Linked DNA regions of Homo sapiens. The protein of the gene in region 4 interacts with the protein of the main gene of each other region in a biochemical or structural test. Each region holds a gene or a part of one and is shown on either strand. Other genes may lie near its edges.

Region 1 (3,500 bases), on a different chromosome or scaffold from region 4:
GTAAGGTGCCGCGGCCAGCTCCTGGGTGGGGCTCCAGGTGGCATCCCAGTTGTGGCCACCCAGCCCTTCATCCTGGGCTAGGCAGGCGGGAGAGGAAAGCGCAGACTGCACGGTCCCGGGCACGTCCTCGGCAGGCAGTGGCCTTGCACTGGCCGGCCCTACTCAATGCACTCCATGACATGTATCTGCAGGGTGTCCATATCAGGGGCCTGATACTGGCACTTGGGACAGCAGAAGTCAGGTGGCTCCTCGGGGGGGCTCCTCCTCTGGCTGGGCAGGGCCAGGGGAGAGGAGAGGTAGGCTGGGAAAAGAGAAGAGTCAGAGGGAAGGGGAGGATGGAGGGGGACGGAGACTTGGCAGGACTGTCAATGGCAGGCCTGGTCTCACAGGCCACTCATGTAAGACCAGGAGCCGCCGCTACCACGGCATGCCTCCCTTAGCCTCGGGGAAGGGGGTGGGCTACCGATGGGGTGGCCTACACGAGCTCCCGCCGTCAAGTCTCCAGAGAGCAACAGGAAGGTCGAACTGTGACCTCCCGCGGCGCAGCACCTGCCCTCCCCACCCACCTCCTCCCGCAGGCCCAGTTCTCGCTCACTCACCAGGGGCGGGGGGCAAGGGGGCCTGGGAGACCTCGACATGCCGCTTCCTCATGTCCTCGATCCTTTGGAAACAGAAACCGTCCAGTCAAGCCACGCATTTCTGTAAAGCTCCTTGGCTGGACTAGTGTCAAAGCAGCTCTTGGAAGCTCAGGTGAGAGGAGAGGGACCACAGTGAGCCCTAACCCAGAACACCAGGAGCCATCCGTCTCCTGTGGTCACCACTGGCAACCCCCCAGTGTCGCACCCACTGCGGGGTCACCACTGGCGACCCCCCAGTGTCGCACCCACTGCTCACACGGGCACGCTCTCAGAGGCCCACCTGGCCGACTCCTGACAGCTGGCCTTCAGTTTGCTGTACTCCCTCTGCAGCTGCTCCAGCTGCTCCTGCAGGAGCTCCTTCTTCTCGGCCAGCTTCTCCCGGGCCTGCCTCTCAGCCTGGAAGTCCGCCTTGTAGATATCCGCCTGGCAAATCCAACAGAAAGGGATGTGCCCGCCACAAGCCAGCCACCCACCAGGCACTGCGCCAGGCACCACAGGAACAAAGCAGAACCCACTGCTGTCCTCCCAGAGCCCCCAGCGGCGCAGAGGAAACAGATACGTCGGCGAGTAATGCCAAGCTCACCGAGAGGTCTAAGGAGCAGCACAAGTGGCTCAGAAGCTTACGAAAGGCCACTACAAAATGATGCCAAAGAGGCCGGGTGCGGTGGCTCACGCCTGTAATCCCAGAACTTTGAGAGACTGCGGTGGGCAGATCACCTGAGGCCAGAAGTTCGAGACCAGCTGGGCCAACATGGTGAAACCCTGTCTCTACTAAAAATACAAAAATTAGACGGGCATGGCGGCAGGCGCCTGTAATCCCAGCTACTCAGGAGGCTGAGGCAAGAGAATTGTTTGAACCCGGGAGGCAGAGGTTGCAGTGAGCCAAGATCGTGCCACTAGTGGCACTCCAGCCTGGGCAACAAGAGCAAAACTCAATCTCAAAAAGCAAAAGCAAAAAAAAAAAAAAAGACGCCAAAGAGACTCTCCAGGTCCCAGTGCCAGGGTGGGTCAGAGAGGAGGGCCCTCACCTGGGCCTTCAGCACCGGAACGGTCTCCATCACAATCTTGTGCTGCTCGGCCTCCTCCTTCAGCTTATCGATCACCTCCTGTTTGGCCACCAGGGCCTCCTCGGCCTGCTGGAGCTGCTGTTTGAGATCTTCCAGCTGCATTCCCTAAGGACGGGCAAGGGGAGCTGACGGAGCCTCGTCAGCCCAGGGCGAGGCTGGCTGAGAAGAACTGAGAAGGATGAAAGAGTGGCCCTGGCTGACCAGGCTGGGTGATGCCAGCCCCTGATTTGAGGGCCCATTGCAGGATCTCAGCGTGCACAGGGAGATGGCTGCGTCCTGTCACGGCCCAAAACGACAGAGGAGATGCTGAGGTTTTTTTCAGGACTGAAGAGGCCGCTGAGGTCATCTGGTACAACCTCCCAGCTGGGCCGACATTCCCTTCCCAGAATCCCCAGCTCCACAGCCCTCCTCCCACCCTTCACAGGCCACAGGCCACACCCACTCACAGCCAGCCGGTCCTGTGCCCGCCATGTGCACAGCTCAGCTGAGAGCCCTCAGTCCTTCCACTCTGCCACCTGGTCAGAGGTGCACTCCTCCCACGCAGGCATCTCCAGCCCCCTGAGACACACACAGACACACCCCACCAACGCCCCCCTCCAGAGATTAAGTGGCCAGTTTTGTAGCTAACTCTTCCCCATGTGACCTGGCTTCAGGCTTTGTCCTTATAAATCTCCTCTGGGTACACTTACGATTGACGGTGTCCTGCTAAAATGTGATCACTAGCAAACTGCACCCCAGCTTAGGTCTGATGAGGACAAACTAGGAAAAGGCTCCCAGCCAACACTGGGGTGGAAATGCTGTCGGGCTTACCTTGGCTTGGGGGAAGCTGAGCCAGGTGCCAGATGGCGATGGCTGGCAAGAGGGAATGTCCATGGAGACAAGACGTCCCCAGCCCCACAGAGGGAGCACCCCAAGGCTCTGGCCCAGCCCCCCATTAAGATGGCCTGCTGACACTCCTGAGAGCAACATCCTGGGGTTGCCATCTCCCCACAGCTTCCCTGAGCTGTCGCAGCTGCAGCCTGACACAGGTCTAAGGCAAGTCTAAGGCAGGTCTACCCATTCTCAAGGTTCAGGGCCACGGGGAGAGGAAGAGGCAAGGCCAGCCCTAGAGCCCCAGTGGTCGCACTCACTCGCTTCCGCTCACTGCCCACCACGCTGCTCTTGATGTGGTTGTCGTATTCTTGGAAGAGCTGGTGATAGGCCACCTGCAACTGGGCCAGCTTCCTCCTGAGGAAAGGGAGCTTTTGCTGGAGAAACCACCTCATGCCAGTCCAGCCACGGTGCTGCCTGCTTCCAACTCTACCCCCTTCCTTCCCTCCCTCGCATCACAGGCCTGGAATGGGGTCTTCCAAGGCTGTGTGAGGACTCCTGAGGCCGTCAACTCTAAAGCAGGCTTTGGTGGGCTGGTCACCAGGCAGTTAATATCGTTTTCCTAAAAGCTAGTATTTTTAATGTTTATAATAAAATCGCGGCCAGACGCGGTGGCTCACGCCCATAATCCCAACACTTTGAGAAGCCAAGGCAGGAGGATCGCTTGAGCTCAGGAGTTCAAGACCAGCCCGGGCAACATAGGAAAACGCCACCTCTACCAAAAATGCAAAAATTAGCCAGGTGTGCTGGCCTGCGCCTATAGTCCCAGCTACCTGGGAGGATCGCTTGAGACCAAGAGGCGGAAGGTACAGTAAGCCGAGATTATGCCACTGCACTCCAGCCTGGACGGTAGAGCAAGACCCTGTCTTGAAAATAATAGTAATAATACAATGGAACTACCCTGCACTGTTCAAAACTGTGAACT
Region 2 (3,500 bases), on a different chromosome or scaffold from region 4:
CCTTTTCTTGGTACATAAAGAATTCTGATGCTTCTGGTGGTGTTCCTCAGCTGTGAAACAGAAGACCACATGTACTTGAAAAAGTATGTATTTTGATGCCTAAGGGATATGCTGTGTACAAATACTTAGAGTGTGGAAGACATCTTCCTCTTTGCCAGTTGCTGATGAGGATGAACAAAAATCAAGTCAGTGGCACAGAAATTCTTTTGTAGGTATTACTACTTGTTATTTGTAGTCTTCTAAGGAACATAGGAAACATGAAAAACACATTTTTGTACGTTGGCTATTTTATATGGTTCAGCCTTTTTAAAAACTTGCTTTATTCATTAGCATCCCAGTTTACTCTATTCCGTCTTCTCCCTGTGGTTTATCAACTTGTAGGTTAAGCACCGCCAATAGTTGAATCTAGGGTTGACTTATTCTTGCTACTTGGCAGGCATTTGGGCTACTTTTTTTTTCTTTCATCCATTTTTGTATAGTTTTGATAAAAACTAAAAAGGAAAACAAAAAAGCAAGTTAGTTTTGATATTAAGTCAAATACTACTAAAAAGGTAAATCTGCAGCTCCTCATCATACAATTTAGTGAATTTTTACCTTCACTTATTACTTTAATAAGGACATAAGTTCAAAATGTGTCCTTTATTTCAAGCCATATTCATTACAGGAAAAAAAAAAAATCAAGGGAGAGCTGTTTAGGGAATTAGCCTGTGTAGCCCCCAATTCTGGTTTTTGTTCTGATGATCCCTGAAGCTACACTCTTTATGAGAGTTGGGCGTGTGTGTGTCTAAGTCTTCCTTTTCTTTTCTTTTCTTTTTTTTTTTTTTTTTGAGACGGAGTCTTGCTCTGTCACCCAGGCTGGAGTGCAGTGGCGTGATCTCAGCCCCCTGCAACCTCTGCCTCCCAGGTTCAGGTGATTCTCCTGCCTCAGCCTCCCGAGTAGCTGGGATTACAGGCACATGCCACCACACCTGGATAATTTTTGTATTTTTAGTAGAGACAGGGTTTCACCATGTTGGTCAGGCTGGTCTCGAACTCCTAACCTCGTGATCTGCCCACCTAAAGTGCTGGGATTACAGGCGTGAGCCACTGGGCCCAGCCTAAGTCTTCCTTTTCTTTTCTTTTTCTTTTTTGAGATGGAGTCTTGCTCAGTCATCCAGGCTGGAGTGCAGTGGTGCAATCTTGGCTCACTGCAAGCTCCGCCTCCCGGGTTCACGCTATTCTCCTGCCTCAGCCTCCTGAGTAGCTGAGACTACAGGCGCCCACCACCACGCCCGGCTAATTTTTTTTTGTATTTTTAGTAGAGACGGGATTTCACCGTGTTAGCCAGGATGGTCTCCATCTCCTGACCTTGTGATCCACCCGCCTCGGCCTCCCAAAGTGCTAGGATTACAGGCGTAAGCCACTGCGCCCGGCCACGTCTTCCTTTTCTTAGCTTTGCTTTGAGAAATCGTTTCTTATCTTGGATTCCATTACAATGGTCCTCCTGCCATCTGGCTTCTCCAGTTGGTTCGCTTATTTTTCCTTCTCCTATCCTCATTCATAAGTATACCTCAGGACTAGTTGTGGACTTTTTCTCTGGTATTTTCTTAGGTAACTTACTCTCTGTTGCCTTGTGTATCCAGTTACCTAAAGGCTCTGGAGGTCCCACTTTTATCTCAAATCCAGCATGTCTAAAACTGAACATACTGTATTTCCCCCTGCCCTCAGATGGCTCATTTCAAGGTCCCCAGTTGGGTTAATGGTCTAGTTAGTTCTTTCCCTAGTTTTCAAACCTTGGTGTCTTCTTGAGCACTCTCCTGGTGTTTAGTGTTCCCAAGTCTGTTAACTCTTCTTTCTCAGGGTCTGTTGAGACTTTCCGTTCCTACCCGCTAACCATTCCCCTCGTTTAGCTTTTAGTATTTCAGGCCTAGACGCTCCTGTCCCCAGAGCTTAGATCATCTTGAGCCCTGAAATTCAGCAGATCTTGCTCAGTGTGCAAGGTTCAAGTCAGTTCACCAACTTCCAATCTTGGCTCCTACCCAGAGGAATTTTTGTCCTCTGAGTGAATATCTGGTAATCTTTTAATTCATGCTGCTGTGTATTATATATAATTTAACTTTAATGTCTGTATGTCTTGGCTTCTCAGTTACATTGTAAATATGTTGTTAGGAAAAAAATTCTTTCTTGATACATGGGTCTTTTATATTTCAGCTTCCTGTGTGTTGAGAATATCACAGTCTGTATCATGTGAGAATAATTTAAGAAGTAGTATAACTAAAGAACAGTGATTATTTTGTTTTCAACAGATTGTCAGAGTCCTTTTTTTTCCATTTATTTGTTGAATAATTACTGTGTACAAGATGTGCTAGGTGTTTTTGAGTGGTAGCAATGACTCAAAACATAGATCCAGTAGGAAGACTAGATGCAATGTGTAAGTAACTATGATATACAGTGGGAAGAGTTAAGTGTCTTAGAGAAAAATGAAGTTCTGTATTGGCCGTTGAACCAGGCTTTGAAAATGGGAGATTGGGCCTGGCACAGTGGGTCATGCCTGTAATCCCAGCACTTTGGGAGGCCAAGGTGGGCAGATCATTTGAGGTCAGGAGTTAGAAACCAGCTTGGCCAACATGGCAACACCCTGTCACTGCTAAAAATAGAAGAGATTAAGTGAGTGTGGTGGCATGCATCTGTAGTCCCAGCTACTTGTGAGGCTGAGGCAGGAGAATTGCTTGAACTTGGGGCAGGGGGTTGGAGGGGTGGAGGTTGCGGTTAGCCGAGATCACGCCACTGTAGTCCAGCCTGGGCGACACAGCAAGACTCCCATCTCAAAAAAAAAAAAAAAAGAAAAAAAAGGATGGGAGATTGTTCCCTTACGATTTCGCTATGAAAATTTTCAAGCATTCAGCAAAATTGGAAGAATTTCTACTACCTTTTCTACTAATGACATTTCATTATGCTTGCTTGATCATATATCTGTGTAAATGCACATCTTTCTGTCCATTAGTTCATCTTATTTTCAAGATATATTTTTGGGATGGTGGACTGGCATTCATAAAGGCCTGAAAATATGGGAAGCATCAGTTTCTCTGAGTGCGAAGTCAGGAGATTGAGACCATCCTGGCTAACACGGTGAAATCCCGTCTCTACTAAAAAGACAGAAAAAAATTAGCCAAGTGTGGTGGCGGGTGCCTGTAGTCACAGCTACTCGGGAGGCTGAGGCGGGAGAATGGTGTGAATCCAGGAGGCGGAGCTTACAGTGAGCCTGGATCGTGCCACTGCACTCCAGCCTGGGCGACAGAGAGAGACTCGGTCTCAAAAAAAAAAAAAAATTTCTCAGAGTGATAGGCATGTGAAATACACAAACAGTTTGAAAAGTATAGGTAGAAAGGACATATTATGAAAATAATGCTGTGTTATGGACCAAATTTATCAAATGATATCTTTGTTTTTGCCAAATAAGAAATTATGAAAATATGATTACATTAAACAATTTTAAAATGCAACTACTTAGGAACACACTT
Region 3 (4,105 bases), on a different chromosome or scaffold from region 4:
TTTTTCTTTTTTTTTGAGACAGAGTCTCGCTCTGTCACCCAGGCTGGAGTGCAATGGCACGATCTCGGCTCACTGCAAGCTCCGCCTCCTGGGTTCATGCCATTCTCCTGACTCAGTCTCCCGAGTAGCTGGGACTACAGGCACCTGCCACCACGCCTGGATAATTTTTGTATTTTTAGTACAGATGGGGTTTCACCATGTTAGCCAGGCTGGTCTCGAACTCCTGACCTTGTGATCCACCCATCTCAGCCTCCCAAAGTGCTGGGATTACAGGTATGAGCCACTGCACCTGGCCATTTTTTTTTTTTTTTTGAGATGGAGTCTCACTCTGTTACCCAGCCTGGAATGCAGTGCCGTGATCTCAGCTCACTGCAACCTCTGCCTCCTGGGTTCAAGCGATTCTCCTGCCTCAGCCTCCCGAGTAGCTGGGATTACAGAAGCGCATCACCACGTCCGGCTAATTTTTTTGTATTTTTAGTAGCGACAGGGTTTCGCCGTGTTGGCCAGGCTGGCCTCAAACACCTAACCTCAGGTGATCCACCCTCCTTGGCCTCCCAAAGTGCTGGGATGACAGGCGTGAGCCACTGTGCCCAGCAAGAAATGTAGTCTTTAAATAAGTAAATTGTATAGTGCATAATTTCCTAATAAAGCTGTACAAAAATTATTTTAAATCAATCATAAATATAAAAGGATTGATTTCATAATGTAACGTAAATCAGCTCAAAATCTTCTCTGAATCCCCATCATGCTTTGAAAATCAAGTCCCCGCTTGCGGGCCGGTGCAGTGGCTCACGCCTATAATCCCAGCACTTTGGGAGGTCAAGGTGGGCAGACAGCCTGAGGTCAGGAGTTGGAGATCAGCCTGGCCAATGTGGTAAAACCCCGTCTGTACTAAAAATACAGAAATTAAGGCCGGGTGCGGTGGCTCACGCCTGTAATCCCAGCACTTTGGGAGGCCGAGGCAGGTGGATCACGAGGTCAGGAGATCGAGACCATCCTGGCTAACACGGTGAAACCCCGTCTCTACTAAAAATACAAAAAATTAGCCGGGCGAGGTGGCGGGCATCTGTAATCTCAGCTACTTGGGAGGCTGAGACAGGAGAATCGCTTGAACCCGGGAGGCAGAGGTTGTGGTGAGCCGAGATCGTGCCATTGCACTCCAGCCTGGGCAAGAATAGCAGAACTCCATCTTAAAAAAAAAAAATAGGCCGGGCGCGGTGGCTCACGCCTGTAATCCCAGCGCTTTGGGAGGCCGAGGCAGGCGGATCACCTGAGGTTGGGAGTTTGAGACCAGCCTGACCAACACGGGGAAACCCTGTCTCTACTAAAAATACAAAATTAGCCCGGCATGGTGGCAGGCGCCTGTAATCCCAGCTACTCGGGAGGCTGAGGCAGGAGAATCGCTTGAAACCAGGAGGCGGAGGCTGCAGTGAGCCGAGATGGCACCATCGCACTCCAGCCTGGGTGACAAGAGTGCAAGTCTAGCTGTGCCTGCAAGCTGCCTGCACCCTGGGCCTTTGTCTGTCTCACTTAGCTGCCTGCGTACCTTTCCCCCACCGGCTTCCTCCCTTGGTTTATGCTCGTCTCCTGCAACGGCCCCCCACCCGCCCTCTTGCCCTCCGTGTTTCCTCCGCTCTGCACAGTCTCATGCCTGGCCTGTCTCTTCCAGTCAGACAGGAGGGCAGGCCTAGAACAGCACGAGCCCTGCAAATACGGATGGATACACAGAAGCACGGGAGAAAGGAAGGAGGGATGGAAGGAGGAATGGATGATGGATGGATGGGAGGGAGGAGGGAAGGAGGGGGGAAAGGAAGAGAGAGGCATGATGGATGGATGGGTGGATACATGGAAGGAGGGAGGGAAGGATGACGGGTGGAGGGAAGGAGGGAGGTTGAAAGGAGGGATGGATGATGGATGGACGGGTGGGTGGAAGAATGGGAGGAAGGAGGAATGATGGGTGGATGGACTGGCGGAGGGAAGGAAGGGGGAACGAAAGGAGGGAGGGAGGGATGGATGATGGACCCATGGGTAGAGGGATGGATGATGGATGGGTGGGTGGAAGAATGGAAGGAGGAATGATGGGTGGACGGACGGGTAGAGGGAAGGAAGGGGAGATGAGGGAGGGAGGGAGGGAGGGAGGGAGGGATGATGGACCCATGGGTGGAAGGAAATAAAAATGGGAGGAAGGATGATGATGACTGACGGCTGGATTCCTACCTCTGTCCATCTTCTTGGGTCCCCAACTCATCAAGAGCCCCTGTCACTCAGTCCAGCTGGAATGCAGGGGAGCCGCCACCCACCTCCCTTCTCCCTCACTGCTGGGCACCTAGTCCCAGCCAAGCCCTTGGTGGTGGCAGGCAGCCAGCGGGGATCGAGTCCCAGCTCTGCCCTCCCAGCTGGGCAGTCCTAGGTCAGCATCTCCTTCGCCAAGTCTCAGTCTCCTACTCTGCACCTCGGGTGTGAGCGTGACCCCTGCCTTCTGGCTGCTGCCGGGAGGATGGGCGAGGTGAGCCGGTGGACACCACACTCTCCCACGGTCCCGGGATGTCCACTCGGGGTGAAGCGTGAGGAGCTCGGGATGCCCCAGGCCTCAGTCCCCCTCCAAACAAGGATGAATCTCCGCTCTTACACCCAGGATGTCGGCGCCCGCGCCCACCCCTCCCATCCAGGGACCCACCGAGAGCGCTGGGCCTCAGTGTCCCCCCTGCATCCCGGCTCCCACTCACCTACTGACAGGGCCCCCAGGGCCAGCACCAGCAGTGAAGACACGCAGGCCTCCATGCCGCTGTGGAGACCCAGTGTGGGTGCTGGCCCCGGCCCCGAGCCTCCCCACACGCGCTTCCTGTGGGGGAGGTGAGGTGACGGTCACAGCCCCGCCCACCGCTGCACACCCTCCACCCTCCATCCTTGAGCATTTTAGAAAGTGTTTCTCAAAGAGGACTCGAGATGAAGCCACACTACCATCATCACACCTGACAAAGTAACACTTTTTTTTTTTTTTTTTTTTCAGAGATGGAGTCTCGCTCTGTCGCCCAGGCTGGAGTGCGGTGGTGCGATCTCGGCTCACTGCAAGCTCCGCCTCCCGGGTTCACGCCATACTCCGGCCTCAGCCTCCCGAGTAGTGGGACTACAGGTGCCCACCACCACGCCCGGCTAATTTTCGTATTCTTAGTAGAGACGAGGTTTCACCATGTTGACCAGGCTGGTCTCAAACTCCCGACCTCAGGTGATCCACCCACCTCGGCCTCCCAGTGCTGGGATTACAGGCATGAGCCACCGCGCCCGGCCACTACTTCCTGCCTCTGAATTGGTCTCTAGGGACCTCCCAGGAGTGGAATCACACAGGACCTGTTGCGTTGGCGTCTCTCCCAGCATGACGTCCTCAAGGTGCATCCAGGCTGTGGCCTGTGTCAGAGCCTCGCTCCTTTTTGTGGCTGTGTCACATCCCATTGTGTGGCTGGACCACGCTGTGTTTATGCATTCACCAGCGGACGGATATTTGCGCTGTTCTAGTTTTTGGTCTTCATGAATAAAGACACTGGCCGAAGGCGGTGGCTCACACCTGTAATCCCAGCACTTTGAGAGACTGGGGCAGGAGGATCGCTTGAGCCCAGGTTGGGGCTGCAGTGAGCCGTAATTGCACCACTGCTCTTCAGCCTGGGTGACAGAGCAAGACCCTGTCTCAAAAATAAATAAATTTAGGCCGGGCGCGGCGGCTCACGCCTGTAATCCCAGCACTTTGGGAGGCCGAGGCGGGCGATCACCTGAGGTTGGGAGTTCGAGACCATCCTGGCCAACATGGTGAAACCCCATCTCTACTAAAAATACAAAAATCAGCTGGGCATGGTGGTGGGAGCCTGTAGTCCCAGCTACTCAGGAGGCTGAGGCAGGAGAATCACTTGAACCCAGGAGGCGAGATCGCACCACTGCACTCCAGCCTGGGCAACACAAGACTGTGTCTCAAAAACAAAACCAAACCAAACCAAGCAGCTATGGATGATCCTGAGACCTGGGTGTGGCTGTGCCAGTAACACTTCACTCACAATAGGGGCGGACGCCAGGTTTGGTCCCGAGGGCCATGGTTTGCTGAGACCCCAGGGCCCCA
Region 4 (3,500 bases):
AATTCACTCATGCTCAAGTCCTAGAGTGCCCTGCAGAACCCATGGAGGAGAAAAGTTGGCCCTGCACATCTGTGGGTCTCGCATCCTGAGATTTTTTTTTTTTTTTTTTGGTGGGATTTTTCTTTCTTTTTCTTTTTTGAGACAGAGTCTTGCTCTGTCCCCCAGGCTGGAGTGCAGTGTCACAATCTCAGCTCACTGCAACCTCCATCCCCAGGTTCAAGCGGTTCTCGTGCCTCAGACTCCCAAGTAGCTGGGGTTGCAAGCATGGGCCACCACACCCGGCTAATTTTTTTGTATTTTTAGTAGAGGTGGGGTTTCACTATGTTGGCCAGACTGGTCTCAAACTCCTGGGTTCAAGTGATCCGCCTGCCTCAGCCTCCCAAAGTGCTGGGATTACAGGCATGAGCCACCACACCTGGCCTGAGAATACTATATTTTTTATCTGAGTTTGGTTGAATTCTCAACTGCAGAGCCCACAGGTGTAGAGAGCTAACTGTATTTATTGAAAACATCTGTGTATAAGTGGACCCGCATACTTCAAATCGATTGTTCAAGGGTCACCTGTGTTGTGGTTTTTATTTTATGTGTCCTTAAGAGTTAGGCAGAGTTTATTTTGCAGTTACTAGGAAGTCATCAAATGGAAGCCTCTTTCATTCATGTTATTTCAACATTCTTTGAGCATCTTTCAAGGTCTACCAGTCCCGGAGCCTTCCAGCTACATCCTGGAGGGGCTGGAGGGTTCCGCTTATATTTGTGGGTGGGTGCAGGCCTGGCCTGTAGAAAGAAGGAAAGCACACAGGAAGCAGAAGTGGGCCCAGGCAGCGGGCTTTCTGGCTGGTGCTGGAGAAAAGGCGCTGAACCGGATCTGTCAACTTCAGTTACAGCTGGCTCTGAGCAGTGAACCTCTCTCCTTGTTCCTTACTGACTGAGAACTTACAAGGCTTTCCTCGGCCCCAGCTTCTTCCCATGCAATAGTCTTCAGGAAGAAGAGCTGGAATAGCATCCTTACCCATTGCCAGAGCCACCTGGGCAGCACAGATGGAAGTTGTACAACTTGGTGAAGTCCATGTCACAGCGAGAAGCAGGCGTGGGGCTTCGGACCTGCTGGGTGCCACTTCATATTCCCTTGACCTTCCTGTGGTCACCTAGGCTGTCTGCGAAATTCCTGGAATCCCAGTGGCCCCGCTCTTCCATCTCTGTGCATTTTTTGTGCACCCTTTGCATATAGAGCACCAAGTGACACTGGCAGTGAGTGTAAGGATTGCTTAGCCTTTCTGTGCCTGGCCACCTCAACCTCCAGGTACAGTAAAAACTAATTCCAATGAAGGTCAGTGGAGGCAGGGAGCCTGACTGAATTTTATAGCGATGGGCAACCTCCTCCCAACATTTTATTATGAAAATGTTTCAAACATACAAAAAGTTGAAGGAATTTTACAGCAATAGTCATTAGCCCACCACCTAGATTTTACAGTTAACATTTTGCATAGTTGTGGCGGGGTTTCAAATGTCTGTAACTGCACAGTTCTTTGTACAAATGAAACTTCATGGGAGAAGCCCATCACGTGTTGAGCAGTGCTTTTAGAGGATGGGGGTCCTGCCCTGCTCTTTAACAGGAAGATGGTCTTCTGGTCGTTTCCCATGTGTCCTGGCATGTGCACATACCACGCTACTTCTGGACCTGCTGCAGCACCCACCTGCTAAAAGAGAAAGCCTGGCCGGGGGCTTGGAGCTGCTCCCTCAGTCTTGCATTCCTTCTGTCCCCTCCTCTCCAGGCGGTGTCTCAGGGCAGCAGCGACTCTCAGATCCTGGATCTCTCAAATCGCTTTTACACCCTGATCCCCCACGACTTTGGGATGAAGAAGCCTCCGCTCCTGAACAATGCAGACAGTGTGCAGGTAGCGCAAGGGTTCAGAAGGGACTGCAGGTCTGCTGGGCTGGGGTGTGACTACCTTGCAGCCGTCCCTCCCCATCATGATCCCTGAGGGCAGCACCAATGCTGGGAGGGCCACCCTCTTGCCCTTGTTTTGAAGTTGGGTTTCTACCCACATTGATGGAGGCAGAGCTGTTTTTCCTGCCCCTGTTCTACCAAATCCACTGGGGAAAGAGCTGTTGGAGAGGGACAGCCTCTCCCTCATAACAGCATCTTCCTCCCCATTTTCCCTCCCTGCCTTTTAAGACAGCTCCTGGCTCAGGACCCATTTGTCTAAAGTACCTTCACTGTAGGTCCCAAATGTCAGCATGTACGAGAGGAAAGACAGTTCTTCCACCTCTCAACTCCCCCAGGCCACAAGGCCTTGTTAACATTCCAGAAAGTCCTTATGAGCTCTCAATATGTGCAGCAGGTAACAGGCTGGCCCTGACCAGCAGGAGGGTTTGCCATTCACTGTGTTGGACCTTCTCTGCATGTAGGTTTTCTCTGCCACCTGGGTGAGTCTGTCTCATTCACCATGATACCTAAGTCGGGGGCTTTCTTTTGCTCCTCCAGGCCAAGGTGGAAATGCTTGACAACCTGCTGGACATCGAGGTGGCCTACAGTCTGCTCAGGGGAGGGTCTGATGATAGCAGCAAGGATCCCATCGATGTCAACTATGAGAAGCTCAAAACTGACATTAAGGTAACAGGGTCAGGCCTTCCTCAAGCATCTTAACCTCTCATCCTGAGAGCAGCGGTCCCAAACTTCCATGTGTGTTAGGATCTCCTGGAAAGCTTGTTAAAACACAGGTGGCTGGCGCCCAATAATTCACTTTTCTAACAAGTTCCCGGACATTGCTGCTGGTGGTCCTTTGAGAACCTTTGGGCGTTTCACGTGTAGATAATGCACCTTGTTTGCAAGGCAGCCTTCCAAGCCAGCACCTCAGCTTGGCGTACAAATTTATTTTTGAGGGTCTTACCAAAAGTTCTTTTTTGTTTGTTTGTTTGTTTGTTTCCTCTCCTTAATCTAGAGAGGAGCTCTGTTTTTCTAAACCCTTGTAGCGTGAACTTTTAGAAGACTTATTACCGGTGTCCATTTCAGAAGTGGAAATGCTTGATGGCACCTGTAATAAAAACACAATGCTTGCGTTCATTTTTCTCTGGTGCTGAAGTGGACTGTGTTGGCACACACAGTCTCTGAACACCCCGCTTAGACCAACTAGAGGAGGGATTTTTGCCTCAGCTTCTAGATGGCCCGGTCCTTGAGCCTATCTCCACACTCATGTGCCCCATTGTCCTCAGCCCATTCCCTGCAGTGTTGCAGGGGTTTGGGTGGGCGAGAGTATGTTGAGTCTGGTACCAGGTGTTTACATCGCTAAAGAAAGAGCCTTGGCTTCTTTCCTAGGACAAAGTATAGACCTATGGGTCCAAGCAGGGTAAGACACCACATGTCATTTGTTTTGCCCCTAGAGCACCTTCCTGATGGGAAAACTGTAGGTGTGGTTCTTCGTGAAGGGATTCTTATTCTCTTTTTACAATTCTGAAGCCTTTTAATTAAAAGACAGGGAGGTAGACCAGCATTCTAGGTT

The links.
Region 1: the proteins of PARP1 (region 4) and IKBKG form a complex in vitro, tested with the Homo sapiens proteins (one study listed by BioGRID).
Region 2: the proteins of PARP1 (region 4) and FOXO1 form a complex in vitro, tested with the Homo sapiens proteins (one study listed by BioGRID).
Region 3: of the proteins of PARP1 (region 4) and GZMM, one has a biochemical effect on the other in vitro, tested with the Homo sapiens proteins (one study listed by BioGRID).

The regions. Positions count from the first base shown.
Region 1 is NC_000023.11:154,561,120-154,564,619, reverse strand, and holds part of IKBKG (NF-kappa-B essential modulator), read right to left. Parts: intron 2,933-3,500; coding exon 2,836-2,932; intron 1,811-2,835; coding exon 1,667-1,810; intron 1,062-1,666; coding exon 919-1,061; intron 662-918; coding exon 600-661; intron 302-599; coding exon 159-301; 3' UTR 1-158. UniProt on the Homo sapiens protein: Regulatory subunit of the IKK core complex which phosphorylates inhibitors of NF-kappa-B thus leading to the dissociation of the inhibitor/NF-kappa-B complex and ultimately the degradation of the inhibitor.
Region 2 is NC_000013.11:40,656,642-40,660,141, reverse strand, and holds part of FOXO1 (forkhead box protein O1), read left to right. Parts: intron 1-3,500. UniProt on the Homo sapiens protein: Transcription factor that is the main target of insulin signaling and regulates metabolic homeostasis in response to oxidative stress.
Region 3 is NC_000019.10:542,748-546,852, reverse strand, and holds the start of GZMM (granzyme M isoform 1 preproprotein), read right to left. Parts: upstream 2,801-4,105; 5' UTR 2,782-2,800; coding exon 2,727-2,781; intron 1-2,726. UniProt on the Homo sapiens protein: Cleaves peptide substrates after methionine, leucine, and norleucine. Physiological substrates include EZR, alpha-tubulins and the apoptosis inhibitor BIRC5/Survivin. Promotes caspase activation and subsequent apoptosis of target cells.
Region 4 is NC_000001.11:226,366,594-226,370,093, reverse strand, and holds part of PARP1 (poly [ADP-ribose] polymerase 1), read left to right. Parts: intron 1-1,772; coding exon 1,773-1,895; intron 1,896-2,485; coding exon 2,486-2,614; intron 2,615-3,500. UniProt on the Homo sapiens protein: Poly-ADP-ribosyltransferase that mediates poly-ADP-ribosylation of proteins and plays a key role in DNA repair.